Linked DNA regions of Homo sapiens: region 1 is linked to region 2. The links come from fine-mapping of genetic effects on gene expression. A gene starts in region 2. The other region holds a variant in brackets. All regions are shown on one strand. Distances are between the middles of the regions.

Region 1 (14,346 bases), 24 kb after region 2:
TCCCTGGGAGGCTTTGCTCCATTTCATTCCCCGTCTCATCTTAAGGGGACTGACTTCTCTCTCCAGCCCCATGGGTAGTTGGGAGGAACACTCTTGTTTGTGTGTTGTGGGGTTGCCTGGTGCTCAGCCTCCACACTCCCCAGTGGTTCACATCAGGTGGAATGCCAGGGCCCGCCATGATGACAGGAGCCTGGGATTAAGTAATGAGTCCATCCCCTTGAGCTGTATTTAGTCACTAATTCTTTTGGTGCGCGTGTTTGCAGTCTAATTACCTGCCTCAGCTGCGCTGGAACCTGCCCCTTCCCAGCTAGTGAGGACCATGACGGCTCTGCACAGACAGGTGACCGTTGCCCTGTTACCCATCCTTGGTTGCACAAGCCCCACGTGTCTTTTGTTAGCTGGGTCCTTGTCACTCTTCCCTCCTCCCTCCTGGAGATTGCTCTGGAATGTTCTCCTCCCCTTACCAGCGGCATGGCAGGCAGCTCCTAGTCTCTGGAGTTGCACTGAGCCAGCCGCTGCCTGTGTGGGACCTTGGACATATCACCTCCCACCTCTGAGCTTCAGACTTCTCATTTATGAATGACCTGGACTTCCCCGTCTGATGTCCTAGGATCCTGTGTTCTGTGCTTTTTTTTTTTTTTTGCCCCACCTGCAGCCAGTTTGTGTTTGCACATCCTCATTGAATCCAGGTGGGGTCATTCTCACCCATTTTACAGGTGAGGAGACTGAGCCCTAGAGAAGTGACTTGGCTTAAGGCCGCAGAGCCTTGCTTTCAACCCAGGTGTGCTGACTCTTGCCTGGTGGGCTCTGCCTGGCTGCCAGCCCCTCATTTTTTCAGGCTGCACATGATAAGGAAAATCTGGGCTCCCAGGCAGCTGGCTCCAGGGCGGCTGCGGGTGAGTAAGTATGCGGGAGATTACCCTGAGGTGCCCTACATTTACCTCCAGGGCAGCACAGTCACTTGGAATAAACAGTGGAGAGACCCAAAGTACATATTAGGTTTCCAAAATAGCCTTGGGAGTTGCTGTTTTTCTCAAAGCTGTAAACATAACCCTGGGCCTGGGGGCCCCCACACTCTCCTGGGCACAGACCCCCTGGGCCTCCTGCCTCTTGACCTGAGTGCCCAAAGACCTGCTGCCCAGACCCCCTGCTGGCTTCCACTTAAGCAAGAGCCAGCAGACACGGGATGGGGATGGGGTGGAGGGTCCATGGGGGCTTGGCCAGGCCTAGGCAGAAAGACAATGTCCCAGGGATGGAGAGCCGTGGACACCAACTTTCCCATCATCTGCTCCATGCAAGGTAGGCCCAGGCTTCAAGGTGCAGAGAAGAGAGTAGCAGAGTTGGCCTGGACTGTGGAGGTTGTTTGGGGAAACTGAGGCTGGCAGGGAGGGGCTGGCAGGGTGGCCATATCTAAGGCGACAGGGCTGCATTGGCCTAGATTGGATCTCCTAGAGAAGGCCCTGGAGATGACACTTACTGGGCCTTTTTAATCCAGTGAATATTTATGGGGCCTCCTATGTGCCAGGCTCTGTGCTGGGCACTGGAGTTGCAGCTGTGACCCATAGATGGGCCTGATCTTGAAAGAGATGAGGGCCGGGCGCAGTGGCTCACACCTGTAATGCCAGCACTTTGGGAGTCTGAGGCGAGAGGATCGCTTCAGCCCAGGAGTTTGAGACCAATCTGGGCAACATAGTGAGACCTTGTCTCTACAAAAAAAAAAAAAAAAAAAAAAATAGAAAAATTAGCCAGGTGTGGTGGCATGCACCTATAATCCCAGCTACTTGGGAGGCTAAGGCAGGAGGATCCCTTGAGCCTAGGAGGTCGAGAGAGCTGTTGTTGCACCCCTGTGCTCCAGCCTGGGCACACAGCGAGATCTTATCTCAAAAAAAAAAAAAAAGACAGAAGGAGAGAGAGAAAAGAAAGATGAGTTAAGCAGAGGAGACCAGCAGGGGATCAGTAACCTCAATACCAAGTGGCCCAGAGCCTTTGTAGTACAGAATAGTGGCACTTGACCCTGACCAAGGAGTCGGGTCAGCCTCCTGGAGGGGGTTATAAGCTGGGTCCTGAAGTCACATTAGGTAAGGGAGAGAGAGAGGAAAAGGACAAAGGGGAAGGGGTGTAGAACCTGTTGGGCAGAGAATGCAGCCCATGCCTTGGAGGTGTGATGGAGCTTGGCACAGGGGGGCTGGAGGTGTTGGGGGGATGCTATTCAGCCTTACTCTACCCTAGCACGTGGCCTTGTTCTCCAGGGCTTATCACCCACCAGGTGAGACCTCTGTCTACCCTTTTGGAGAAGAAGTGTCTGGCCCATTTCTCAGATGAGCCTGATCTCCCAACCCTTGCTCCTTGGGGAAGGTAGAGGGCCACTGGTGAGGAAGAACAGTATTTATAGCGGAGTCTTCCTGCACCCAACGGAGGCAATCTTTTGACTAATGAGGAAACTAAGGCACAAAACATTGTTGCTGCAGGAACTGGAGTAAGGGCCCAGGACCCTGCTTTTCCTTGGCTCCCTGGGCAACTGGGAGCCTGTGGTAGAGAATGCCAGAGAGCGTTCTCTCTAACACGTCACACATGGCTCTTTAGAGGGGCACAAAAGCCTTTTCTACATCTGCACACTTGATCCAGAAACCCAATCTGGGTATCCCAGAGGGATACCTGGACACATATGCAAATGTGAGGGTACAAAGGTGTTCACAGTCTTGTTTAGATTGCAAGGACTCTGCGCTGACAGTGGAGGACCCATCAAACCAGTGGCCCTGCAGCCACCTGCTGTGTCACCTGCTCGGGAGGATGCTGCCGTATATTGTTAGGTGGAAAAAATGCATTTGAAAACCACATATGGTCGCATCCCGTTGTCGTTAAAAACCAATCTCATAAGAAGAGAAAATCTCATAAGAAAAAGTTGGGAAGGATATAGAGCCGATGTTAACCGTAATTCTCTCAGGGAGGGGGATTCATTTGGGTGGGTTTTACATTGGTTTTATCTGGCTTACCTGTTTTTTTCTTTTTCTATTTCTTGTGTAATCATTGTAAACACTCATGCAATTTAAAGCAAGGGGAAAACGAGCAGGTATTTTTGTCTTTTAAAAATTTAAGTGGTTTTGATGTTTTGAGCAGGTATACATGACATCATTCAAAATTAAAAAGATACAGAAGGAGGGGAAATTCTGACACACACTACAACATGGATGAACCTTGAGGATATTATGCTAAATGAAATCAGCCAGGCTGGGCGCGGTGGCTCACACCTGTCATCTCAATACTTTGGGAGGCCAAGGTGGGAGAATTGCTTGAGCCCGGGAGTTCGAGACCTGCTGGACAGCATGGTGAAACCCCGTCTCTACAAAAAATAATTTTTAAAAATTAACTGGGCATGGTGGCTCATGCCTATAGTCCCAGCTGCTCCAGAGGCTGAGGCAGGGGGATTGCTTGAGCCCAGGAGGTGGAGGTGCAGTGAGTTGTGTGATTGTACCACTGCACTCCAGCCTGGGCAACAGAGTGAGACGCTGTCTCAAAAAAAAAAAAAAAAAAAAAAAAAAAGAAATAAGAGAAATAAGCTATTCACAGAAGGACAGATACTATCTGATTCTATTTATACAAAGTACCCAGAAGTCGAATCCACAGAGACAGAAAGTAGAAGGGTGGTTGCCAGGGGCTGCGGGGAGAGGGGTACGGGGTACTACTGCTTAACAGG[C/T]ACAGTTGCAGTTTTGCAAGATGAAAGAGTTCTGGAGATGGATGGAGGTGATGGTTGCACAGCAGTGTGAATGCACTTAATGCCACTTTAAAAATGGTTAAGATGGTAAATTCTATGTTATATGGTTTATTTATTTATTTATTTTTGAGACAGGGTCTTGCTCTGTCACCCAGGCTGGAGTGCAGTGGCGCGATCTTGGCTCACTGCAGCCTTGAGGTCCTGGGCTCAAGCAATCCTCCCACCTCAGCCTCCTGAGTATCTGGGACTATAAGCGGTGCCACCACACCTGGCTAAATTTTTTGTAGAGATGGGGTTTCGCCATGTTGCCCAGGCTGGTCTGGAACTCCTGGGCTCAAGTGATCCACCTGCCCAAAGTGCTGGGATTACAGGCGTGAGCCAACGTGCCTGGCCTGTTATGTGTATTAAGAAAAGATACAGAGGGGACAGAGTGACAGTTCTACCCCATAATCCCCAGCCACCCACGTCGCTGCTGAAGGGAACCAATGTTTTCAGTGTGATGGTGGATGCTTGGTTTCCTTTCTCGTGCCCCTGGGTACAAATGGGCAGTGGCAACTTGGATGGGGCCCCTTCACTCATGGACGGAGGAAGATGCCCCCTGTCCCAGGGTGAGCATTCCCTTCCATCCCTGCTTGCCTGGCACAAGGCAGCCAGTGCCCAGAACTTCCCACACTTCTTGGGTTGAAGGGATTGAGGATCTGAGGCTGGAGGAGCCAGAGGTCCTGCCCCAGCGAGAGCTCCGGAACTCGCCTCCCCTCTCTCAGCAGGAAGAGAATACTCTTAATCCACTTCTGTGTCCCCAGCACTTGGCTCCTGGGTGAGCACTTGGGAAATGTTTGTTGATTCTGTCCTGGGGGAAGAAGATGAAATGTAAGCCGGCAGCCAGCCTGAGTTGGGCTGTGGGAGATATTCTGGGCTGCCGGGCCTGGGTGTCTCCAGAAACACCCAACGCTCGCTCATGAAGGCTCTCTTGGTGCCAGGTCTTGTGCCAGGCACTGGGATATGGTGCCGAATTGGATACAAGGGAGATGGGACGTCCTCCTGTGTGTCTTGACTGTCGGTGTGTTGCCGAGCATTGGTAGCAGAGGGGGCTGGTTTGGCACCCAGGTACCCTGCCTCATCCCCGGGGCCTTGGCCAGTCTACACAGAGGAACTGCCCTCCAGCTGAGTTACCCATTTTCCATGGCAGGGAGGACAGCAGAAAGGCCGTGTTCCATGACTAATCATAGCTTCCATCTATTGAGCATTTACTGGGAGCTGGGCACTGTGCTAAGTGTGAAACGTGTGTTGACTCATTTACTACAACAACCTGGCAAGGCAGGTTCTTCCGTTAGCCCCTGCTCAAAGCTAGGGGACCTGGAGCACAGGCGGTCAAGTGCTTGGCTCAAGGCACACAGCTCAGAAGTGCAGATCCTCTGCCCCTCCTGGCATCCCAGTCTGGGGGGGTCAGGGGTGGGATCTCTGCAGTCAGTGCCTGGGGGCTGGATGACAAGCTGCAGCCTCCCCGCAACCCCACGATTTCCATAGCGCAGTGGAGCCAGAAAGAAACAGACCATTTTACAGACCAGAGAAACAAGGTTGCTGCTCTCTCAGACCCTGGAGCCAGTGACAGGGAAGGCGGAGAAGGGACGAGAGCCTCCGTTTATTCGGAGCCTGTGTATACCCTCCTTTTCACAAACTGTAGCAGCCTCCAGAGGCAGGGGGGATCTTTATGATGACCAAATGGGGAGGCTTAGGGATTGGAAATCACTTGCCCGGGAGCGTGTGGTTGGTACCACTGGGATTTGAGCCTTGTTCCGTCCAGCTCCAGAGCTTGGTGCCTTTCTTGCTCACCACGTGCCGGCCCCAGCTCGTTGCCTTGGCAGTGGAGGTGGTGGTGTGCCGAGGCCTTCCTGCACCCTGGGTTCTCTGGCGCTGAGAAATAAGTGCATGGGCAAAGTGGCTTTGTTTCCAGGTCAGTGACTGTGACCCCATGTGTACACATCTGTGCATCTGACCGTGGCACTGTAACCCAGGGGCATTTTCTAAGTGATGTGCTGGGGGTGTGGGCAGGGAGTGGGGCTTATGGAGCCGACGAGACACCATCAGACCATAGAGAGGCTGCCCAGGCTTGGGAGCCATATGGACCTGGATTTGACCTTGAACAGGTCATTTCACCTGAGTGTGTATAGTGGGAATGATAACATCCGGCTCACAGAACTGTGGTGAGAATTAGAGATGGTGGGTGTCGAATGATTAGCACCTAATCAGCATTTTACAATAAATGCAAATTCTTCCCTTCTCGTAGAAGAGTGGAGTCTGATGAGAGAGACAGGGAAGTGAAAATTCACAGCCCCTGGATGCCAGTGCTGAAGGAGTGGGTTCAGGACTGGGAACATCAGAATGGGCATAGTGACTTATTCTGGGGAAGTCATGAAAAGCTCCCTGGAGGAGGTGATGAAGGGGTACCCAAGCCTGGAAGAGGCTGGCAGTGGTACTCCAGAAACTTCATGGTGGCCTGCAATTTGTGATGCAGATTTTTCCTCACTGTGAGATGCTGGTTGAGACAATTTCCTCCTTGGAGTGGCCTGGTTTTTTAGGGGTAGGGGGAGTGCCCACGTGGGTGTAGTTTCTAGACAGAAGCAGTGGGAGGAGGGCACTGCCAAGCATGCTGCTTGGGATTATGGGTGTCCACAGAGCTGCAGTTTCTCCAAAGGTGTTTTTTGTTTGTTTTTGAGACAGGGTCACACTCTGTCACCCAGGATGGAGTGCAGTGGCCCGATCCTAGCTCACTGCAACCTTGAACTACTAGGCTCGAGGGATCCTCCAACCTCAGCCTCCCAAGTAGCTAGGACTACAGGTGCGTGCCACCATGCCTGGCTAATTTTTAAAATTTTTTGTAGGGATGGGATCTCACTATGTTGTTCAGGCTGGTGTTGAACTCTTGGCTTCAAATGATCCTCCTGCCTCAGCCTCCCAAAGTGTTGGGATTACAGCCGTGAGCCACCATGTTCAGCCTCTCCAAAGTTGTGTTCAATAAGCAATACCAAGTGGCAGTGATGCTGGGAACCTGGGCAAATATAGACAGGAGGGAATTGGACAGGTGGCTCAGAAAACAACTGAAACCTCAGATTGGCATTGGGGCAGGTGACCCGGGGGTTCCCTGGGCCCCATGTTGCCCAAAAGAGCCAGCAGCTGGCCTGGGTGAATACCCTTAAATGCCTTGTGTGTGTTGGAAGGTGCCATGAGACCAGCTGGGCTCTCCTGCCCTGGACCCACCTGCTGCCACAGTGGCCCTTGTTAGGACAGACCTCAAAGGGCTGGGCATGCCCATTAGTTCCTGGGGTATGTCTATGGGGTGTGGACGGTGAAAGCAGGGTTTTCAGTGGGTTTTGCTGACGGGGGTTCTGTGGCATTAGCATCTGGCTTCTTTCCTTCTGCCACCCTGTCCCCTTGTACTGCCAGCCACCCAGCCAGGTGAAGGCGGCATCTAGCTCATTACCATGACTATCAACAACATGACTGTTATGCAGACAGTGGCTCTGGGGTCAGATGGCCTTGGGTTCAAGTCTGACCCCCTCACTTACGATGTGGTCCAAGAGCATTCTCCCAGCCTCTCCCCACCTCTCTGAGCAGCTGTCATTGGGAGGTCGTGAGGATGAGAATGACACCAATGGCATGCTCATGGTAGACCAGGCACTATTCTGGGCACTTTTCATATGCTATTCCATGGAATGTGGGCAAAACCCCTCGGAGCTGGGAGGTATTACCAAGGCCCAGAGAGGGTCATAGCTTGCTCAAGGTCACAGAACTGCAAGATGGATAGCTGGGATTTGATCCCAGGACCCTCTGGCTCCAGAGTCCCTGCTCCCCTCTCCACTACACACACTGGTTGGAACGCAAGGACAGACGTCTCAGCTGGCTTTTGAGCATTTGTGGTTTGTCAGGCGGCTTTGTGGTCAGTGTAGGATGCTTGTCCAGGGATCATGGCAGTTGTTTTCTGGCTTGGCTGGGTGGGCCCTTAGAATTCATCCAGTTTGACATCATTGCATTACTGATGGGAAAGTGGTGCCAGAGGAGGGGAAGGGACTTGCCCAAGATCACGGAGCCAGCTGGGGCAGAGGCAGGACTAGCTTCAGGACTTCCAGCACAAGGCTGCTGCCTCGTTGCCTGAAGGGGTGTGTGGCTGGGGGGCCGGAGCCCAGTTAGGGGCTTGCCGTTCTTTCCCACTCACCTCTCACCTCTCAAGTCACCACAGAGAGCCCAGAGACCAGCTAGCTGCCCTGCAAAGGGCCCCTTGGTCACCAGGAAACAAGTGGGGGGAATGTCAGGTGAGGGGAATGTCAGGTGGGGGAATGTGATGACCCCACACAGCTCATCCCCCCTGCCTGGCGATGGGACTCACTTTCACCTCCTTGCTGGGAAAACTCCTTAGCAACTCGATTTCAGTGCTGCCTCTCTCAGTTGCTCCTGGGTCCCCAGAGGGCCAGGACAGGTTGGAGAAGTGTCCTTGCTGAGGGGGCCCAGACTTTCACCCACCCATTTGCCCCTCCCTCCCCCAGGTGGGTAGAGCCAGGGTGACACCGGTGAAGAGCATGGGCATCATCTGTCAAGGGCATCTGTGTGCCTCACTTGAGCCTGCTCTCCTGATCCATCCATGAGCCCTACAAGGTGGGATTGCTATCCCCGTTTTACAGAAGTGGAGACTGAGGCTCCTAGCTTGAGGTAGGCAGGCCCTCAGGGGATCACACAGAGGCAGATGACTTTCTCAGCTCACCTGCCCTTCCTTCTGCAGAATTGCCTACAACCTTTGACTCTCTAAGGCCTGCGGGGCTCGTGGCAAGCCCTCAGGAACTGTTTATGGAATGAATGAGTGAGGGGCAAACGAATGAATGCATGCTCCCACACCACGCTGCTGCTTCTTCTGGGAGAGGGCACCCAGCGGGTGTCTGCTGTTGAGTGCAGGCTGTCAGAGCCCTGATGGCACCCAGGATAACTCCGGATGGAGTTGGTATCCCTGAGGCTGTCACCACTTCTGGACTCCAAGGAAGGGCCCTATCCAGGGCGTGCAAATAACACTGCAAATGTCATGTCCCGAGGGATTTTGGGAGATCCTATTATAGATGGGGAGACTGAGGCCCAGGGCAGAGAAGGGACTTGCTCAGGGTCATGCAGCAAATTAGCAACGCAGCCAGGGCATGAACCAGGACCTCCTGCTTCCTAGCCCAGTACCCGCTCTTCCACAGGGAACTTCCCTATGGATGTCAGACCCCTCTGCCTCTCCCCTGAGCAGCCTTGCGCAGACCTGGCACGCTGGGATCCCTGGAGGAGGCTGCCGTTTCTGGTTGAAAGCAGCTCTGTGTGTCTGTGTGGGTGGCAGTGTTCTGGGGGCACACTTGATTAGTGGCTTCTCAAACCTGGCCCCCATCCTCAGTGTACAGCCTGTGCTCCGTCCTGCTCAGGCCATTACTGCCCGCCTGTAATGGAATCGGCTGCCCTGGTTAAGTGTTCACATTAAATTAATACCTCCTCCGTGGAGACAATCAGTTGGCATTTAATTTGTCTTTCCTTCCGAGAGCTGGAGAGTACAGCTGGGCAGCCGGGCTCTGATGGGCACGTCTGCGAGACAGCCTTTCCTTGGGATCAGGGGCTCCATGGAGATGGGAGCCGGGAGGCCACAAGAGGTGGTGCCAGGTGTCCCCAGGGGGTGGGGCTTGGGGCAGGCAGGAGGGGGCCTCTTTCATGCGCAGGGGCTAGAGCTTATTGGCTGTCCATTTTCGGGGGAGAAGACGGGCTTGCAGCGTGCCATGTGGGAGAGAAAGTCAGGAGGCAAGGCATCCACACGTGCATCAGTGCTGAGCTGCCCAGGAGGTGAGCCCTGTGTTAGCAGTGGTGGCGGGATTTCCACATTGTATTCCCAGCCCTGCCCCACTCCCACTCCCTTATCGGATTTTCTTTCTGCCTTAAATATGAATTGTCTGTGGTATTCGAGGGGGATGGTGTGCAAGGAGGAAGTTGACTCGGTTGTGGTTTTCAGGTTCTCTAGAAGGGCTCAGAAGAAGCAAGTGGAGGCTGTTGGGGGCACGCAGCCCTGACCCCACCGGGGAGCCTGCTCTGGTCTTCCCAATCCATCAGCTTCTGCAAAACTGCATTTGCAGAAAGGGCTCCCCTGGTCTACCACTGTGCCTGCAGCCTCTTCTTCCAGCTCAGATATTATTTTAGAGAAGAACAGCTGATTGGGGCCCCCAGGCTTGGCCCTGGCTCTGCTGTGAGGATGCCTCTGTGCATCTGCAGGTGGGCAAACACAGGAGCTAGGGCAGCGCAGAGCTGAGGGGCATTGGCTGGGCCAAATCTGTGGTTTGAGCAGCCGGGCTCCAGCACAGCTCCCTGGCCACCTGCATCCAGCCCTGCTGCAGTGGGGTGAGCTCCCCGAGGCCAGGGTGGAGCTGAGAAGGTGCCAGCCCTCCACCCGCCGGGAAGGAAGCTGCTCTCTGCCCCCACCTGCCCTCTGCCAGAGGCCAGGCCCACGCTTGGCCCAGAATGAAGTCTTCCACTGAGGGCTCCAGCCCAGCCTCACCTGAGCTCATTTCCCTTCACCTGAGTGAGTCGGCCTAGGCGTGCCGGCCGCTCGCCTTCCCGCAAGGTGTGGGCCATTTCCACACCTCCCTCCCAACTCTGGAGGTGGGAGGCAGCCATGCGCTGTGCCGTTGACGTGGAGCTGCTGAACACCCATGGTCTGCTGGATGCCAGGGTGCTTTTACCCACACCATCCCCTTCCTGTAGTTCTCACAGCCACCTTCGAAAGGGGGTGGCTGGTTTCCCAACTCACAGAGGGGACAACTGAGGCCCAGAGAGGGTAACTGACTTGCTCAAGATCACGCAACTGGGAAGTGATGGGGCAGGATTTGAACCCGTCTCTTGCTGCCCTGGTGTCTTGGGATGCTCACTCCAGGAGCCCCAGGTTCGTCCCTGGAGGGCTTCATTGTTTTGCTGGGCCTGCACCTACTTTCCTCCTGAGCGGGAGCCTCGAGCCTCTTTTTCTGACTGCACAGGAAGTGAAAAATCTGTGAGTCAGCCCCTCTGCTGGTGACTTCAGCTTGGGTTTCCGCCCCTCTGTAGGGCAGGCTTGTCGGTCCCTTTCCTGCGGGTCTGTGTGTCATCTTGAGCTGACGGGAGAGGGGGAGGCACTGGCCCTGAGTGGGGTGGGGGTGGGGACTGGCATAGAATCTGCCCACCCCTTTTCCCCAGAGGCCAGCAGAGACTTCTCGTCCCTCACGTGGTTCCAGTGGTGGCTCCTCAGGAATGCGGAGAGACCACATCTGGCTGGGGTGGTGCTGCCACCTCTCCCTCCTGGCCACCAGCCTCAGAGAGTGCTTGTTCTGCTAAGATGGTGGCCGAGGCCCCTGATCTCAGCTGCTTTGTGCTTTTGTGGAGTCATTTCCTCTCCCTGCACTCTTTGTTCTGACATCCCTGCCTCCCCTCCCTGGCCCAGGGCTGTGGGAAGTGGGAAAGGGAAGGTTTCTCCTTCTCCTGCCTGCTTCCTGCCCTGGCCATCCCTCCCCCTGGCCTGGCCTGGCCTCTCCCAGGAGAGGCTCTGGAGCCGAATGGATGAAGCTGAGTGCAGGGGCTATGCTGGGAATTTGCCTCCTGTGAGCCCCTGGGCTGGGATGTTCAGTCTAAGGATGCTCTGGGGGAAAGGAGTTCTGTCTGGAGGCGAGGGCCATCAGGGCACTGAGGAGTAAGTGCAGCTTTGGATCCATCCATCCATCCATCCATCCATCCATCCATCTATCCATCCAACCAATCCATCCATCCATCCATCCATCCATCCATCCATCCATCCATCCAACCAATCCATCCATCCATCCATCCATCCATCCATCCATCCATCCATCCATCCAACCAATCCATCCATCCATCCATCCATCCATCCATCCATCCATCCAACCAATCCATCCATCCATCCATCCAACCATCCATCCATCCATCCATCCATCCAACCAATCCATCCAATCCATCCATCCATCCATCCATCCATCCATCCATCCAACCAATCCATCCATCCATCCATCCATCCATCCATCCATCCATCCATCCAACCAATCCATCCATCCATCCAACCAATCCATCCATCCATCCATCCATCCAACCAATCCATTCGATAAATGTCTGACTCCTTAGCAAGTGCCCAGCCAGTTTGAGGTGCAGGGAATACAGTAGCAAGCACAGGAATGATCATCATAACCAGCTCTCTGGGCCTGCAGAAGGACTGGACCCCCGACCTGAGACCCGGCTCCTGTGCCTGTTTTCCCACCTAGACCAGGGAACTTGCCTCTTGCTTCCTCTTTGCCCCATCTCTGTGCCTGAGACCTCCCGAGATGAGTGCCAGCCCCCGGTGGCGGTGGGGAAGGTGGAAGTGGCGGTGACCACACAATGGAGCCATCACTGGCCCTGGCGTCACGGGACTGGCTCCTTTGGGCAAGAGCTGTGTGCCGTGGGATCCCACAACCATGCCACTGGGGAAGAGGAGATCCTGGGGCCTCCACTGCTTTAAGCTGTGGGGCAAACAATGGAAGTGGATGTGAGGCTTGGGGAAGAGATGACATTTGAGACAAGCCTGGGAGAATGGCTAGGGTTTCAGGAGGCTGAGGAGGAGAGAGGAAGAGGGGAAATGAGTTACCTGACCTCTGAGCCTCATCTGCAACATGGGGATGATCCCCAGGGGAGGGCTCAGCGGGATTTTATAGAGGGAAGTATGAGTGCCTAATGTGGTGGATACCACCGAGAAGGTAATCAATAAATGTCCCTTCTCTCATCCAGCGCTAGAAAAGAGAAGGATTTGGAAGTTTTATGAGCTGTTGGGTCAGGGTGGGCAGGGGCGGCTCTCAGTGATTCAGGCCGTGTCAGCCGTGGCTGGAGTTGTCCATAGGCCCTGGGTCTTCATTTTCCCACTTGTAAAGTGGGGACAGGGTAGCTTTCCAGCCCAGTGCATGTGCAGTATGATGGAGGGGATCTATGGAAAGGCCCTGCAGAGAGCACTGGGATGTGTTTGTCACCTCATTTTCTGCCAGTGGCAGGCCTGTCAATATTCTGGAGTCTTCAAAAGACCAGAAAGGACCCCTCCCCAGCCAACAGAACAGCTCCTGGACTGCTGAGGGAGACTCGAGGAAAATGGCCTTTGTGCCCCAAAAGTGATCTCTTTATGTTCACTCCAGCCTTCCTTCCCCTTTCAGCCTTAAAGGGCCCGGGCGTAGGATTCTGTCAGACCTGGGTTCGAATCCAGGCGCTGCCACTTCCTAGGCAGTCTTTGGGCAAGTCGTTTGCTCAGCCATGGGCTGGGGCTGGGAGAGGGGATGGTGCAGGCTGAAAGGAAACGATGTCTGCAAACCGCTGATCCAAAGTAGGTGCACCCGCCTCTTGGTGGCAGACAGCGCCTGGCCTGTCCCTTCCTGCTGCCCTCTTTGTTTCTGTTGGTCCCTCTGCCTGAAACACCCTCCCCACTGAAACCTTACTCTTGTGGGCAGACCCAGGGAAGAGGGAGGGTTGTGCTTGGGAAGCTGGTGTTGAAATCTCTGTGCCAGCAACTTGGTTCACCAGTTCTCAGTTAAGCTGAGTGCTCCCTGGCTCTGGGTGGGTGGGCAGGGAATACAGGTGTCTGGAGTGCCGTAAGAAACACATCGCCCACCTGGCCCTTCATGCCAGTCCTCAGAACGATCCAAGGACAGAGCTTTTCTGCATTGTCAACACTGGAGCTGGCGGAGCCAGGTTTTCTCCACCACCGCCGGGAGGGATGTCAGGGCGGGCGACAGGCTCTTCAGTCAAGCCAGCTGCTGTCCACATGCGGGGTCTGTCCTCAACCTCCTGGGAGCAGGCCAGCCGGCTGCCTCCCCCGTCTGGCTTTGGAAATAAAAAGCCCGTGAAATCATTTGTGCAAGCTCATCCTGGGGGTGTGGTATGTGCAGTCAGGAAACACGATTGAGATGTGGGGTTGGGAGGGTGCAGAACTCGGGGCAGGAAGGGAGAGGTGAGGTGGAGGGGCTGGGTTGTGTGGTCTTCAGAGCCTGGCCACTCAGTGCCATCTGTAGCCCAGCATCACTGGGGAGCTGTCTGCCCCAGCCCTCGCCTGCGGAACCAGCTTCTGCATGTTAATAAGATGCCCAGGTGATTGGTATGCACATTCTAGGCTGAGACACGCTGCTTTAGAGACTGGACTAGCTTTGAGTCCCAGCTCCCTGCTTGCTAGCTCTGTGACCTTAGACAAGTTACTTTACCTCTTTGAACCTCAGCTCCCTCATCTGCAAGATGGGCTTAGTTAGAAATTCTTTCCCCAAGAGGGTTAATAATTCACATTCAAGCCAGTGATGTGTGTGTCCAAGGCAGTGAGCCGGGTGTGTGGGGCCCAGAACGTACCCCCCAGTTAATGGTTGCTGGTGCTGTTGCTGTTATTGTGTCTGGAAAGCCAAAGATCTGGGCTCCTGCTGTCACCTTGGGTGGATTTGGGGCAAGTCTCATTCCCTCTCTGGTCCTCGTTTTCTCCGTCTGTACAAGGGTTCTATTGGCCCCTGCCTCGCCTTCCTCATGAGATGGTTGCTCAAAGGAGAAGTGAGGGGTGCTGGGCCTCATTCCCAAGGGCCCCTCTGGGGAATGGGGAGTGT
Region 2 (14,174 bases):
TTTTTTTGCATTTTTACTAGAGACGGTGTTAAGCCTTTGGCCAGGCTGGTCTCAAACTCCTGGTCTCAAGTGATCCACTCGCTTCGGTCTCCCAAAGTGTTGGGATTACAGGTGTGAGCCACTGCACCTGGCCCCAGGTCAGATAGTCCTATAGTCTTATTTCCAGATGAAGAACTGAGTACAGAAAAGGAAAAATTAAAACTATTGAAATTTAAAAAGAGATCATTTATAAAGAGGAACAAACTACTGATACATGCTACCACATGGATGAGCCTCAAAGACATTGTGCTCAATGAAAGTGGCCAGACACAAGAGATCACATATTGTAAAATGTCATTTATCTGATATATGTAGAAAAGGCAACTCCATAGAGACAGATCCCAGATTAGCGGTTGTCTGGGGCAGGGGGTAGGAGTGGGGATGATGAAATATTCTAAAACTGGTTTATAGCGTTGTTTGCACAACTTGGTAAATTTATTAAAAACCATTGACATGGGTGAATTACATAATATGTAAAATATTCCTCAATAAAGTAAAAAAAAGAAATGCAATTACGTTCTGCAAATATAACATTTCCTAAGCAGCCATGATCCACTTTACAGGAATTTCTCCAGTAACTAACAGCTCATTCATTTGTTCACCTGAACTCATCTTTGTTGAGCACCTATTATGTGCCAGGTACCATGCCAGGATATGGGTTCCAGGGTGAATCTGATCAAGTGCTTCTGCTCTAATAGAGAATATGGGTTAGCAAGTGTTAGAAGGCTGGGCTAGAAGGGGTGGAGATGCAGATGAGAAATCCAGCAATGACAAGAGCGTATACTTGGGGCTGCCACAGGGTGGGCAGTGCTGGCAGAGCCTGGAGGAAGCACCCTCCACCCAGACCTGGCAGGTACTTGAGAAGGTTCCGAGAAGAGAAGTTTCCGAGAAGAGAAGGTTCCGTGCTTGAGGCTGGGACCTGAAGGATGAGGAGTTGTTAGCAGGTGAAATGGCTGGGGAGTGGGGCAGGAAGAATAAAAGTCATTTTCTCATTCATTTCTTAATTCTTTTATTCATTCATTCAGCAACTGTTCATTGAGAGCAGTTATGCCCATTTCCCTGATGAGGAAATAGAGCCTCAGAGAGGTAAAGTGACTTAGATACAAACCTTAGCCAATCTCTTGTCTTAAAAGCCCACCTTTTTCCACTCCCCACTCTTGCCTCCAAAAACAGTCTGGACAGGTTAGACACACCGCTGTGACTTTGAGGGTCAAGGGGAGGTACCCTGCCAAAAAACAAAAACCTAATTATCCTTGTTTAGTGAGAGGAGGCTGGCGTCCCCCACAGGGATGTTCCTTTGTCTGTTGGAACTCTTCCGCTGCCTTGAGGACCCACCTTTAGCCCCCTTTGGATCTTGAATGGGGGAGCCAGCCTGCCAGTGTCTGGGGTTAAGGGGAGGAGACCACTGAATTCATTGTCTGGGCCAGGGAGGACCTACCATTGGAAAGGGAATGGGACCAGAATTCCAGACCAGGCTTTGATACCAATTATTCAGGAGACCTGGGTCAGTCCTTACCTCTCTGTGGTCCTCAGTTTTCTGGTCCCTGAAACAAGAAATCTGGGCTGGCTGTATCCTGAACTATAGGACTTCTGGCCTCAGATGCCTCCAGATTGATATGGGCTGGAAGTAGGGTGACACATTTGTTCTGATTTGCTCGTTCTGATTTACTTTCCAGGTTTTAGCATCAAGAGAAACCTTCTCAGTTCCTGATAAATTGGGATGGTTGGTCACCCTAGCTGGAGGACTGTTAGGTTAACCTAACCTCACATTTTACCCACAAAGAGCAAGACACGCAGCACCCGCCTTTATTCCTATGTGGCCACGAAGCTATTTTCAAGCCATTTTGTTTGCACATATCATGTTTCTAGGGTTCAGCTGAAAACCCTCTCAGGTCCAGCTACCACTTCCCTCAATTCCTTCAGATCTTCTGGGCTCTGCTTGGCCATCTCCTTTTCCCCCCTCTGCACCCACTCCCATGCCTCAGGATGGTCTTTTTTGGTTGTCTCCATCAGCTCCCCTGGAGCCCCTTTAGCTCCTTCCTCTGCATTTAATGCAGGATTTGTGCCGAAGCAGGTGCTCCACAAGTCATCACGGAAAGTCTGAATATCTCCAGGGCCCAGGGCAGGGCTGCCCCCACCCTCAAGGAGGGCTGCACACCCCAATTCCAGGGCAACTTTGTTGGAAGGACAGATCCTTCCTGGAAGAGGTTGCAGGGAGCCACTCCCCAGGTGTGACTTCTTAACCCTTTCTCTTCCATGGGACCACTCAGGCATTGGGTGGAGCCTGTGGACCCCTTCTGAGAATAATTTTTTTAAAAAGGCATTAGGATTACTATGAAAAGTCATTTTACTAAAAATAGATATCAAACTATTAACAATTTCTCATATAGTAACATACGTTCTCTTTTACTAATACATTAAATAAGATTTAGTGGTCGGTCTAATATGACTTTAATTTCACAGTTCTCGTAGCTTAGATGATATCTTGAGATGTTTACAATAACTGTAGTGTGTTACATAAATACCTGTGATTTCTACTAGTGACAAAATCACAGGGACATCTACTTGCTGCCTACATTCATAATCAAAGGATATGTTAAAAACCATTGGCTGGGCACGGTGGCTTACGTCTGTAATCCCAGAACTTCGGGAGGTCAAGGTGGGCGGATCACCTGAGGTTGGGGGTTCAAGACCAGCCTGACCAACATAGAGAAACCCCCATCTCTACTAAGAATACAAAAAAATTAGCCGGGTGTGGTGGCGCATGCCTGTAATCCCAGCTACTTGGGAGGCTGAGGCAGGATAATCTCTTGAACCCCGGAGGTGGAGGTTGTGATGAGCCAAGATCGCACCATTGCACTCTAGCCTGGGCAACAAGAGTGAAACTCTGTTTCAAACAAACAAATAAACAAACAGACAACAAAGCCTTTAGAGATTAGTGAGGCTAAAGGTATAACTTTTGTCCACCCCTGTGTCATGGACCCCCCAGAATTCTATCCTCAGTCCTCTTGGGGGTCCATGAACCTCTGCTTCAAGGCAAAGGGGTTTTGATTCCTTAGGTTAGATAAACAAGAACATCATCAAGAGACGAGAGAACGAAGAGTAAAGGGCAGTGTCCAGACTGGGTTGGGTTAAGCAGAGAAAGGTTTCTAGATGAGTGAGTTTCAGAGCTGGGTGTTTAAGGTGAGTCCGTGTTGGCAGGAAGCAAGGAACTGTGGTTGAGGGAAGGAACTATGGGGAAGGTTTGCTTTTGTGGCTAAATCAAAAACACAGCAGACTAACATCACAGCCACATCACTCCAGGGCAAGCCCGTGTCTCCTTTGTCACCAAGAACACCAAGGCATTGTCCATGTAAGACAGTGTGCCTGTCCTCAAGCTTACATACAAAGAGACAAAACAAACACAAAAGTTAATAACAAGACAAAAATTAAACTGCTAGTAAAAAATGCAGTCGGAAGTATCTGAAACATGCCACATATCTGGTTAAGTGCATACAATGCAAGCCACAGGCGTTCAAAGGTGGGGGTTCAAGGTGGGGGTCACCTCCCCTCTGAGGTTTGCGGTGAGGACCAAATGCGGAAATGGACACGAGGCCCGAGGCCAGCATTGTGGAAGGCCGGTTAGAGCATGCACTTTGGACCATTGTGGCTACTTAACGTCTCAGTGACCTTCTCTGTAAAATGGGGATAATAAATAAGTATGGCGCCTGACATATACTAATGTTTGCAACACGGTTCAGGAGACACCAGAGACTGGAGAACTTGGCCTTTAACGTGGTAGGTGTGAAAACATTTGAATGAATGAATGAATGAATGAATGGGTCCTCGGGTTGCCTCGGTCTGCCCCAGGCGGCCCGCTAAGCCCCATGTCTGTGAAATGAATCCCCAGCTCTCGGGGTCAGCTTCATCTCAGCGTGTGGGTGTGGGTGGTGGGGAGGTGCTGAGCAGCTCAGCAGAGGCGAGGCCCAGGCCGAGTTTGTGGGTGTCATCCCGGGAGGGTCTTGCTCGGCCTCCCCAACCCCCATGCTGCTCGGCTCCTCAGTGGGCGGGGGAACCAGCGGGCTTAGCTGTGCCCGGGCCGATCTCGAGAGGACAAGGCCCGCAGCTAGCATTCGAGGAGCCCACCCCCGGGTCCGCAGCGTGGGGCACGGGCGCCCTCTTATCCCCGAAAGGTCGATCTGGGCCTCCCCAGGCTAGAGTGGGGGTGGGGTGCCGATGCACCTTCGGATACTGTGGTCCCCCAGCCCTTCCAGCCGCGGTCGCGCACATCCGAAGGAATTTGGGGCCAGGGGCATTGCGGGCAGAGAGGACAGAGAAACGGAGCCCTCTCGGCAGGCGACGTGGGAGAGGAGCGCCCTAAAAAGTGGAAAGCGAGCGTTGCCGAGGCTGCTGGCCCCTTTAAGAGGCCCGGCTGGCTCTGCGGCGGTTCCAGCTAACCCGGTCCCTGGTGCAGCTCTGCGGTCCGGGTCCCCCAGCAGAGAATCGGCACCCGGCGGGGAGGCAGGACCAGACGCAGGAGAGGGCGTGGCCCCGCCGGGGAGCTGGGCGGAGTCTATGCTGCGGAGAAAGCGGGAGAACCCGGAGGTGGGCGGAGCCGAGGGTCTGTGGGTGGGGCCCGGCGCTGCGGGCCTCGTGGGGCGGAGCCTCGGGCTCGGGGAACGCCGCAGAGGGAGGAGGGGTGGGCGGGGCCGCGGCGGGGGCGGGGCCAGTGTCTGCAGTGGGCGGGGCCCGCCGCAGAAGGGGCAGTGCCGGCCGAGAGTCCTCTGCGTGCGGCTGCCGCGGCCCCTCCACAGCGTCTCTGACAGCCCGGGCGGTGAGACCCGCGACCCTTCTGGCCCCGCGCAGATACCGCGGCCTCCACCGCGTCCCGAGGAGCGGCCGAGTGCCCTCTCTCGCCTCGGCGCCCGCATCCGGGGCCATCCGTCCTGCCGTCTCTGCGGAGGCCGCATCTGGCGCGCATCTGGAACCGCCCGGCCGGCCGCGCTGGAGCCCGCGCCCACCCTGGCCCGGCCGCGCCGGGAGCCCTGCCCGGAGCTGGAGCCGCACCTGGAGCCGCGGGCCCGGGGCCCTGAGCCGCGCAGCCGGCGCATGGTGAACTCGCTGCTGTTCGGGGAGATGGCCTTGGCCTTCGGCTGCCCGCCGGGCGGCGGCGGCGGGGGCTGCCCTGGCGGGGGCGGCGGCGGCGGCGGGGCAGGGCCGGGTCCGTCGCCGGTGACGGCGGCGCTGCGGGACGACCTGGGCTCCAACATCCACCTCTTGAAGGGGCTCAACGTGCGCTTCCGCTGCTTCCTGGCTAAGGTGCACGAGCTGGAGCGGCGCAACCGGCTGCTGGAGAAGCAGCTGGAGCAGCAGCAGAGCGAGCGCGAGCGGCGGCTGCGCTACAAGACCTTCTCCCGCGAGCAGGCCGTGCAGACCGGGCCCGAGTTGCTGCGGCCCCCGGCGCCCGGCGGCGGGCACGGCCTCAGCAGTGGCGCGGCGGCCGGCGCCAACGCCAATGCCGTGGCCCTGGGCGGCCTGCCCCCCGGCGGCGGCTCGCACCCGCAGCACTACGGCCGCCTGCCCGGGACCATCTGGAGCTACACGCAGGTGCGGCGCACGGGCGGCGGCGGCGTGGAGACCGTGCAGGGCCCCGGCGTGTCGTGGGTGCACCCCGACGGCGTGGGCGTGCAGATCGACACCATCACGCCGGAGATCCGCGCGCTCTACAACGTGCTGGCCAAGGTGAAGCGCGAGCGCGACGAGTATAAGCGGAGGTGAGTGGCCGCCCCTCCCCCGCCGCCCTGGGACGGGGCGCCCAGGTCCAGGCTGCCGCGGAATGCGTATGCGGGACGGGGGCCGGGCGGGCAGCTGGTACTGGCAGGTGGGCTGGAAGCTGTGTTTGCAGAGCGTCTTACGTACGCCAGGAAGGCCCAGTTATCTAGATCCCAGGATGGGGGCGGGCGCTGGCTACCGTGGGGGCCACCTCGATGCTGTCACTGGTGAGGCACATTGTTTTCTAGGTGACATAATAACTGTCTGTGTTTTATGCGATCTCATTTAATTCTCAGCACAATACAGCGTATTGTGTAAGGCAGTCTTATCCTCATCTCGCAGATGAGGAAACCGAGGTGCAGAAATGCTAAGTGATTTGCCTAAGGTGGCTTGGCGAGTAAGTGGTGAAACCGGGATTTCAACCAGAGATTTTAACCACTCCTGGCTAGTCTGTCTCCTAGCATAAGTATTTTTACCAAGGAAGTAGGAAATATGCTCCCCTCCCTCAACATATGAAAAGAAAAACTCTAACCAACCCACTGCCTTTTTATTTCTTGAATTAAATGAGATCACGTTTTTGAAAATGGATGGATCTGCCCCTACCCCCTGGGGCCAGTGTCTGCCGTCTTGCTCCAGCTCTGTAAGGTCCAGCTTGCTGGGTTGGATAACCACAACTACAACAGACTGCTCACAAGCTTTTATAAAATGCCTCCTTTCATCCCTCTTCTCCCCACTCCCTGAGTCTCATGGTTTATTGAGCCCTAACAAACTCAGCCTTAAAAGCCCCCAGGAGAAGATAATGTTGGGCTGGAGACTGGACATTGAATGGACTGAGACCACAATCTCTGGCTAGAACTGGGGTCCAGACTCTGCAAGACTGGCCAGTGCATTCCTGCCTAGCCCAGATTCCCCAGCTGGGAAACTGTCATTGCTTCCTGTCTGCAGTCTGGCCGACAATACTGTCTGCTTGGCTTTCCGATAAGAGGAGAGGGGTCTCCTATCCTCCTCCTCTTCCCATAAGAGAAGAAGGGTCTGTCTTTGGCATCTCAGGCCTGGCTGGGGAAGGGGCCCTCTGGCCCTGGCAATCGCTGTTCCAGGCACAGGCAGCCTTCCATTCGGAGCTATTGGCTCTGAACTCCAGGGCTTGGAGGATGTACTGAGAAGGACCCTTCCTTCCATCTCTAAAGGTCTGTCCAGGGAGCTGGGCATAGGTCTCCTTCCGTATTCTCCCATTGGACAGGCTAGCAACTGGGTAGGATTCAAATGCCAGCCTTATACCTGCTGGTGAGATTATCAAATCACTTGAAAGCCTGTTTGCTCATCAGAGAAATGGGAATAATAAAATCTGCCCACAGTTGCTCGAGGAGACAGCAGGATGGTGATGCTCTTTGGGAGGTATAAAGTAATCATGCTGGTGTTATTAAAGATGATAGGCACTTTGTCAAGCTAGCAGGGAGTAGAAATGCTGAGAGTCCTCAAGCTCTCTCATGTGGCGCCTAGCTTCCTGGGGGTAGGTCTTACACTCCACTGGGAGACGGGCTTCTCTCCTGGGTTACCTGTTTCTCTGGAGGACTTGAGAATGGCCCGCCTGGTGCCTTGCCACAGGGAGGCCACCTCGCCGCCCCTCATGGTCAATGTCATTGGGGCAGGCTAGGGAAGCAGGCACTTGCTCTCAATGGTGAAACTGGGGAGGGATGGGCCGGGCCCTCCTGTCTGCCACTGTTGATTGTGTTGTCATGCCTCAGGCTTGTGTTGTGTTTGTTTTATTGTGTGTGTGCTTTTTGGACCTGGCTACTAAGGTGATGGAAAAACCGTGCCCAGTCTTGGAGGGAGATGGGTTGGCATTGAGCAACGATCTATTCAAGTTGCACCCAGGGCGTGGGGTGTGATGTCAGCTTCTGGCGCTGGCCTGGAATGAGACGGTGCTGCTGAGACAGGTGGAGTGCGGGCGTCTCTCTTCCCGCCCTTCTGGGATGCGTGCACACCTTGTCTTCCATTTATTTTCTGAAGTTAACTCAAGACTCATGTTGGATTTTTCCAAAGCAGGTATATTCCTTTCCTGGGGCCTCAGTTTCCCCGTCTGTGAAGTGAGGTTGAGGGGGGGCTAGAATTGCGGTCCTTGAAACCCCAGGCTTTCTTAGAGATGCTTTAGGGTTTCCTTGAATATCTAATAAAAATGATCATTTAAAAGAACATTAAGACGTTAATACAGTGATAAAAATGTGCTCACCCACCTTTAAGTTCTTAATATTAACTCACTGGGTTCTACTAACATGCTAACTTGTTAGTAGTATGTTTTGGGTATCCCTAAGAATTTTCTTTGGGGAGGAGGGCAGACATTTGATAAACATTTTTTAAAAAGTTGAAAAACCACTGGGCTAGATGATCTCAAAGGGTCTTCCCAGCCTTGGCAATATATAAATCTGAGTTTGAGCTCCCAGCCCGCTTCTGATCCCCTGGCCATAAGAGAAGTCACCGTCTAAGGGATGAGACCCAGGTGTCTGCCTGGACTGTTGTGGCCATGAAGGGCTTTAAATCATCCCAGGATATCTATTACAGAACTCCAAGCAATGATGCCCAGAAGGAGCCTAACCCAGAAGGGAAAGGTTCCAGGGTTTCCCCTGGTCCACCTGGAGGAAGCTGCAGCTCCAGAGACCCCCACTTGCTTCCCCAAAGGACAACTTAGGCTGCGAGGCTCAGCGATCTTCAAGCCGGACGCTTGTTGAGTTCCACCTCCATGATTTCTGGCCACATCCATGTACTACCGCCTGTGCTATTACGTACATAAAATATTTTAACAACTTCATTGAGGTACAACTTGCATATCACAAAAACTGCCCATTTTAAGTGTACAAGTCAAGATGAGTAAATTCACAGAGTTGTGCAGTCATTACCACAATCCCGTTTTAGGGCATTGCATCAGCCCCCAAAAAGATCCTTCATGTCCATTTACAGAAAATTCCAATTCCAAGCCCAGCCCAGGTAATCACTGACCTGCTCTGTCTCTAGAAACTAGCCTTTTCCGGACATTTCATAGAAATAGAAACATACACTCTGCAGTCTTTTGTGTTTGGCTTTTTTCACTTAGAGAATTTTTTTTGAAGTTCATCCATGTTGTAGCATGTATTTGTAGGCTGTTCCTTTTTATAGCTAAAAATATTCCTCTGTAGTATAGACCATATTGTGTTTATGAATCCACCCAGGTATTCAATGTATTTTAAATTTAAAACGTCAACTGTATACCACCGAGCATCATCTCATGTGCCATCAGTGGTCCACAAACTGTGCTTTGGAAACACCAACCCAAACCAGAGCCCCTGGCCTGGGGTGCCTGGGTCCTGGCCCCAGTCACCACTGCTTTGGTTTTCCCTTGGCCCAACCAGGTCTTTACCACGTGGGAAATGTGGTCGCTGAAGCCGCAATGAGGACGAGGTTGTCAAGCGTTGATTTGGAAACCAAAACAAACATCTCTACTCTGTCACCACCCAGGGCCACTAAAATATCTTGTTCTGACTTTGCAAGCTGGGGGCTTTTCCCTGGAGTTTCCCACTGAGTTTATCTGAACTCAACAGTGGAGAGTTCCCTGAGTTGGCATCCAGGAGACCTGGACTTTAGGTCCAGCTCTGCCACTAGGTGCTGTGTGACCTCTGGCCAACCGCTGCCCTCTCTGGGCCTCAGCTCCTCCACCTTTACATGCAGGAGTTCCTGTGGGTGATCTCTCTCAGCTTGCTCTCTACTTTAGGTCAGTGACTCCAAGAGGCCCGTGTTGTGGCTGATCTTTCTGCCTCTGGAGACCACACTGTGTTCGCTGAAGCCTTTCTCTGTTCTGGGCTTCCCCTTCCCTCTCCTATCTCTGCCCCAGATAACTAGGGTCCAGGCTCCAGGCATAGGCAGCGCTGGCCATCCCATCCCCAGGCTTAACCGGTTCAACCGTTTCCCCTGTCTTCATTGGCTCCAAGGAAGGATGCAGGAAATCTTTAAGGCTGTCAAGAAAAAGGTCCCTCCAGCCTGGCAGCTGTCACAAAGTTGCCATGGACTGGTAGGGGAAGTTGCCCTGGGCTGGTAGAGGAAGTTGCCCGGCGCTAGTAGTGCTGGCCTAGCTGCCTATCAGACAGGGCGACTCTTTTGGGGGCCTGGTGTCCCTGTCCAGAAGCCTGTCCAGCCATCCTGGCCCCCTCAGGCCTAGTGTGATTTGCAGCTGGCTGGCCTGGTTCCCTCCCGTGCGAGTGGCTGACTGTATGCGCCCCCCAGTTGAAGTCAGCCTGGAGGCTAGGTTTCTTTTTTTCCTGGTGCCTGGGGTGATTGGAGGGTGGTTTGGGAGCCTGGAGAGACCACTGTGATCATTCAGCCTGGTGGCTTTCAGGTGGGCTTTTTAGAGCCCTGGAGTCCATAGCAGGGCGCCTTGGGAGACTCGGGGGACAGTGGGAGGCTGAGTACCTGAGATTTGACCCATGTTGCCCACCATAGCTCCATGCCTCTCTGACTCCCAGACTGTCCAAAAAGTATTCCATTTTAAAAAGGGTTCTGCTGTTTTAAAAAGAAAGAAACCGCTGATTCAGCTGAGTACTTTCATTTTAAAGGTGGGGAAACCAAGGCCCAGAGGGGGGCTGGCCCTCAGTGCTGAGCTGGACAGACCTTCCATCTGCCGTGCAGAGCTGGCCTCCCCGCCTCGACATGATGCCCGCATCATCCGCCAGCAGTCGAGGCTTTGTTATGTTCTTTCCACCTTTTTGTATGTCTGTTTTAAACATTTTTTTAAAAAGCCACTTTCTGGGATGGGAGGGACTTTTGTCACAGCTATTTCTGACTGTGAGCCGGAAGGGGCTGGGCTGTCGGCTGGAATGGAGGACTCCAAAAAGGGATGGTGGGTGGGTCAGCTGGAGTGTCCCCCGCCCATTCCCGTCACACCCCAGGGGGGCCCTCAAGCAGGTGGGTGCTGGCCCCTGAATGTCCCGAAGCCCGAAGGCTGCCCTGGAATAGAAAGCTGAGGGCTTTGTTCCCTGCCACTCCCATTGACACTTTCGTTATTTCTGAAGCTGGCACCGATACGGATTCTTTATTTCTGATTTTCCAGTGAGGCAGCCTTCGATGGTGGAAAAGGGTTTTGCATCCTGGCTCTGCCACTGTCTGTGTGAACATGGGCAAGTGGCTTGGCCTCTCTGAGCTGCCCGTGGAGCTCCCCGCTTCGTCCTCTGTAAAAGAGGGATCATCTTGTTGCTCTCCCAGGGATTGAGAAGGAACAAATGAGGTCTGGTGTTAAGGTACCTGGGGCTTGGCAGATTTTGGGCATACCTACCTCCACCCCAGCCCAGCCCCCTTCCCCTGGCAAAGTCTGTTCCTTTAATTTACAAGGATTTCTCAGCATGGCCCTGACTGCCTAACAAGTCCATTTCAGGGCATGTCGCCGCTCTCTCTGTCCCATGGAGGCGCCAGAGATGGTGTTGGGGGTGGAGGGAGAACGGCTGCTTCTTTGTCCGGCATCTAAGAAGGCTGTTTGACCTACTCTTAGCAGTTGATTTGTGCCTCCGGAAATCTCTCGCCATCCCCCAGCCCTTTCTCCCAACTTCCTTTAAGAGAAACACACAAACCCCTCCATCTAGCGCCTCGGGTCCCTTGAGAACTATATTACAGAATCCCTTGGCTGGGTTGGCATTCTCACTGGGGACAAATTTGGGAGCGATTCTCAGAGCCTCAAGCTAGAGGGAGGGGAATGAGGTCCCAGAAAAGAAAAGGAAGCAGGGAGACAGCTGACGCTGAAGATTCCTTCTCAGAGGAATGCGAGGCGGGGCTTTGCCTTGGCAAACGAGACCGGATGCGGGTCCCCGGGTCCCCCTTCCCCCCACGTGTATGCACACTCACACTCACACACATGTACGTGCACACACACACATTCACATACACATGCAGATGCACACACCAGACTCTCCGTTCAGTCCTGTGGCCCACGTCCCCACACATGACCGTGTTTGAAGGACACAGAAGGGTAGACCCGGAATTTGAACACGCCCTTTGCTGCAACGAGATGCGTTGCCTTCCAGGAGAATTGATTTAAACTGTGCCATGTGTCAGTGACACCGGAGGCTGTGGGCTTTGCATTTGCAGTCCTGGCTTTTGATCGCATTGAGAGGTGAAGGCCGGCTGGCATTCCATTTATTTCCTATGTCGCGGATGGCTGAAGGCCCGGGACGGGAAGGAGGCAGCCCTGTCATGTCCCTGTGCTCAGGATTAGGGATGTGTTGCTTTTTCCTGACTTTCTGCTGTCAGGCGGTCCTAAGCACCCACCACCTCCCGATCACAGCCCCCCACACCCGGAGTTGTAACTACCTGGCATGTGTCTGCCCCTGCATCGACTGGAAGCTCTGTGGGGGCCGGCTCCAACTCTGGCTTCGTCTCCCACTGGCAGATCCCAGCCAGGACCTGGCCAAGGTCCATGCTGAGTAAATACTCATGCAGCAGGGAGGCCTCTGTGTCTGGCTGCTGTGAGCTAGTAGGCCTCCAGGAGGATGGGACAGAAGACGGACAACACAGACCACGTCCAGGGATTCGGCTGTTTGTGGAGGGGAGGGCCTGCACTTGGAATCAGAAGGCCTGGGCCAAAGTTCAAAGTTTGAATGAACCCCCAAGCCTGGCAGTGCAGGGTGCTGGGGCCCCAGGGCAGGAGTTAAAAGCCGAGTGAGCTTGGGCTAGTCACTGCCTCTCGAGCCTCAGTTTCTTCATCTGTAAAACAGGGATGCTAAGCTCTGTGTCCGGAGGTTGTGGAAGAAGTAGACAGGCTCGCCTAGCTACAGCACAGGGCGTGTAAACAGTCAAGTTCAGAATGATTTCACAGGGCAGAGAGTGGGTGCCCTACAGAGGCAGATCTGTGCTGGCCCTGTGGGGTGGGCAGAGGTTGAGAACCAAGCTGGAAACTGGGAGAGGGTGTCCCGTGCCCTTTGCTGGCAGCATCTGTGAGTTGCACAGCCCTTTGAGCATTGCCAGACTGTGAGGTGTTTAGAAAATTCCAGGCCAGATGGGAGACTGCTGAAGGTTTGTGATGTTGCCGCCGCCTGCCCACGAGGGGAGTGTCCTCCCACCCACACTGGGCACCGGGTGCTTGGCTTCCTGAGCAGGATGTGGTTTCTCATTCTAGACCTGGTACAAGAGAGGGTAGTTTTCACCCAACAGTAAACCTGGCAAATGGCAATGCCTGGTTCTCTGGAGGGTCCGTGGAGCCCAGGTCCTGGTCTGGGTTTGCCTGCGATGTGGTCTGAGCTTCACTATGCCCACGTGGGAATGGGGACAGTGGGAAGGTGGGCTTGCCCAGCAACCCTATGAAGACTACGTTCTCTCCGTAATGTAGCACAACTCTGTGCATGCCATTTAATCTCTTGCACCTCAGTTTGTCGCTCTGTACAATGGGGGTGTGGTTTCTTACGAGTTCTGCTTCCCAGGGTTGAGGTAAAAGTCAATTAAAACAGTGCAGTAGGAAAACATTTTGCAAAAGGATTTGAAAATAAATCAATATGGCTTAATGCTTCCGTTTATTGAGCACCTACTTTGTGCTAGGTGCAGTGATGACTTCTTTAAATATGTGATAATTATGGGAGCAGTCCCAAGCAGTGGGAAGTGATTATGCTCATTTTACAAATGAGAGGTTCAGAGAGGTGAAGACTTCTGTCCCAGATCTCGCCACGAGTCCGTCTGGGTCTCTGGACCCCAAGGTCAGTGCTCCTCCCAGGAGGTGGCCTTGTCCCATGCCCCTGGAGGTTGCCAAAGGCTGGCTCAGGGTGAGGAGGCAGGCAGGAGGCACGGGGTCTCCCCAGCACCTGTCACAATATTGCCATGGCGGGTGGCAGAATAGGAGGCGGCTGCTGCGCTGGGAAGACTCCCTGCTGTCACTTTACAGAAATTATTTCTTGAGAAGCAAATGAATCACTGGCAGTAGCAGGCAGATGAGGCTCCCGGGCCACTGTAGCAGGCCTGTCCAGGCCCCTGCTCTTTGGAGAAGGTCTCAATGGGGGCTGGCAGGGCTGGCAGGGGAGGAGTTGGGGAACAGGGAACACATATTATGACCCGTCTGGTGATTTCCACGCGGTCTCATTTAAACCCGGTGGTGGCACTGCAGGATGGAAACCGAGGCTCAGAGAGGAGAAGTAACTTGGAAGTCAGGCTCCAGATCCAACCTTTATCCTGTGCTGTACCCAGAAAGGGCCATGCCCATTGCAAGCCGCTTTCCTGCTGTGAGCCTCAGTTTTCATTTCTGTGAAATGTTGCCTAGCAAAGCTGGGGCAGGCTGTGGATCTCAGGCTCTCAATTAATGCTCCATTTATCTTGCCCGGCCCCTGAGTGTCCTCAGGGCACAGCCAGCCCGAGGTTCTCATCCACGGATCACCAGCAGCAGAGGG

Direction of the effects. Positions count from the first base shown, and alleles are read on the strand shown. Sizes are in standard deviations (SD) of each study's normalised expression.
With allele T in place of C in region 1, the expression in regulatory T cells of the gene that starts at base 4,784 in region 2 is higher (moderate effect, 0.49 SD a copy in Schmiedel 2018).

Evidence for each region. PIP is the estimated chance that this variant, and not a neighbour inherited with it, causes the effect.
Region 1: its variant is the best candidate, but not a certain one, in a credible set for the expression of IFFO2 in regulatory T cells (Schmiedel 2018, PIP 0.59).

What each region holds. Positions count from the first base shown.
Region 1 is chr1:18,923,252-18,937,597 of GRCh38, reverse strand. The region is part of intron 1 of IFFO2 (intermediate filament family orphan 2); the gene reads left to right. Among named protein-coding and RNA genes, the nearest start is that of IFFO2, 26 kb to the left of the region's middle. RefSeq lists enhancers at 594-1,139, 1,140-1,684, 1,685-2,230, 3,882-4,869, 9,379-9,428 and 4 more. The variant C/T (reference allele first, on the strand shown) is at 3,695.
Region 2 is chr1:18,947,286-18,961,459 of GRCh38, reverse strand. It overlaps IFFO2 (intermediate filament family orphan 2), which reads left to right and starts at 4,784. Exons shown (of 9, transcript NM_001136265.2): 1 at 4,784-5,792. The coding sequence starts at 5,128. RefSeq lists silencers at 4,602-4,771, 5,342-5,601, 5,842-6,031 and enhancers at 9,079-9,408, 9,429-9,478, 9,679-9,818, 9,849-9,978, 11,109-11,238 and 1 more.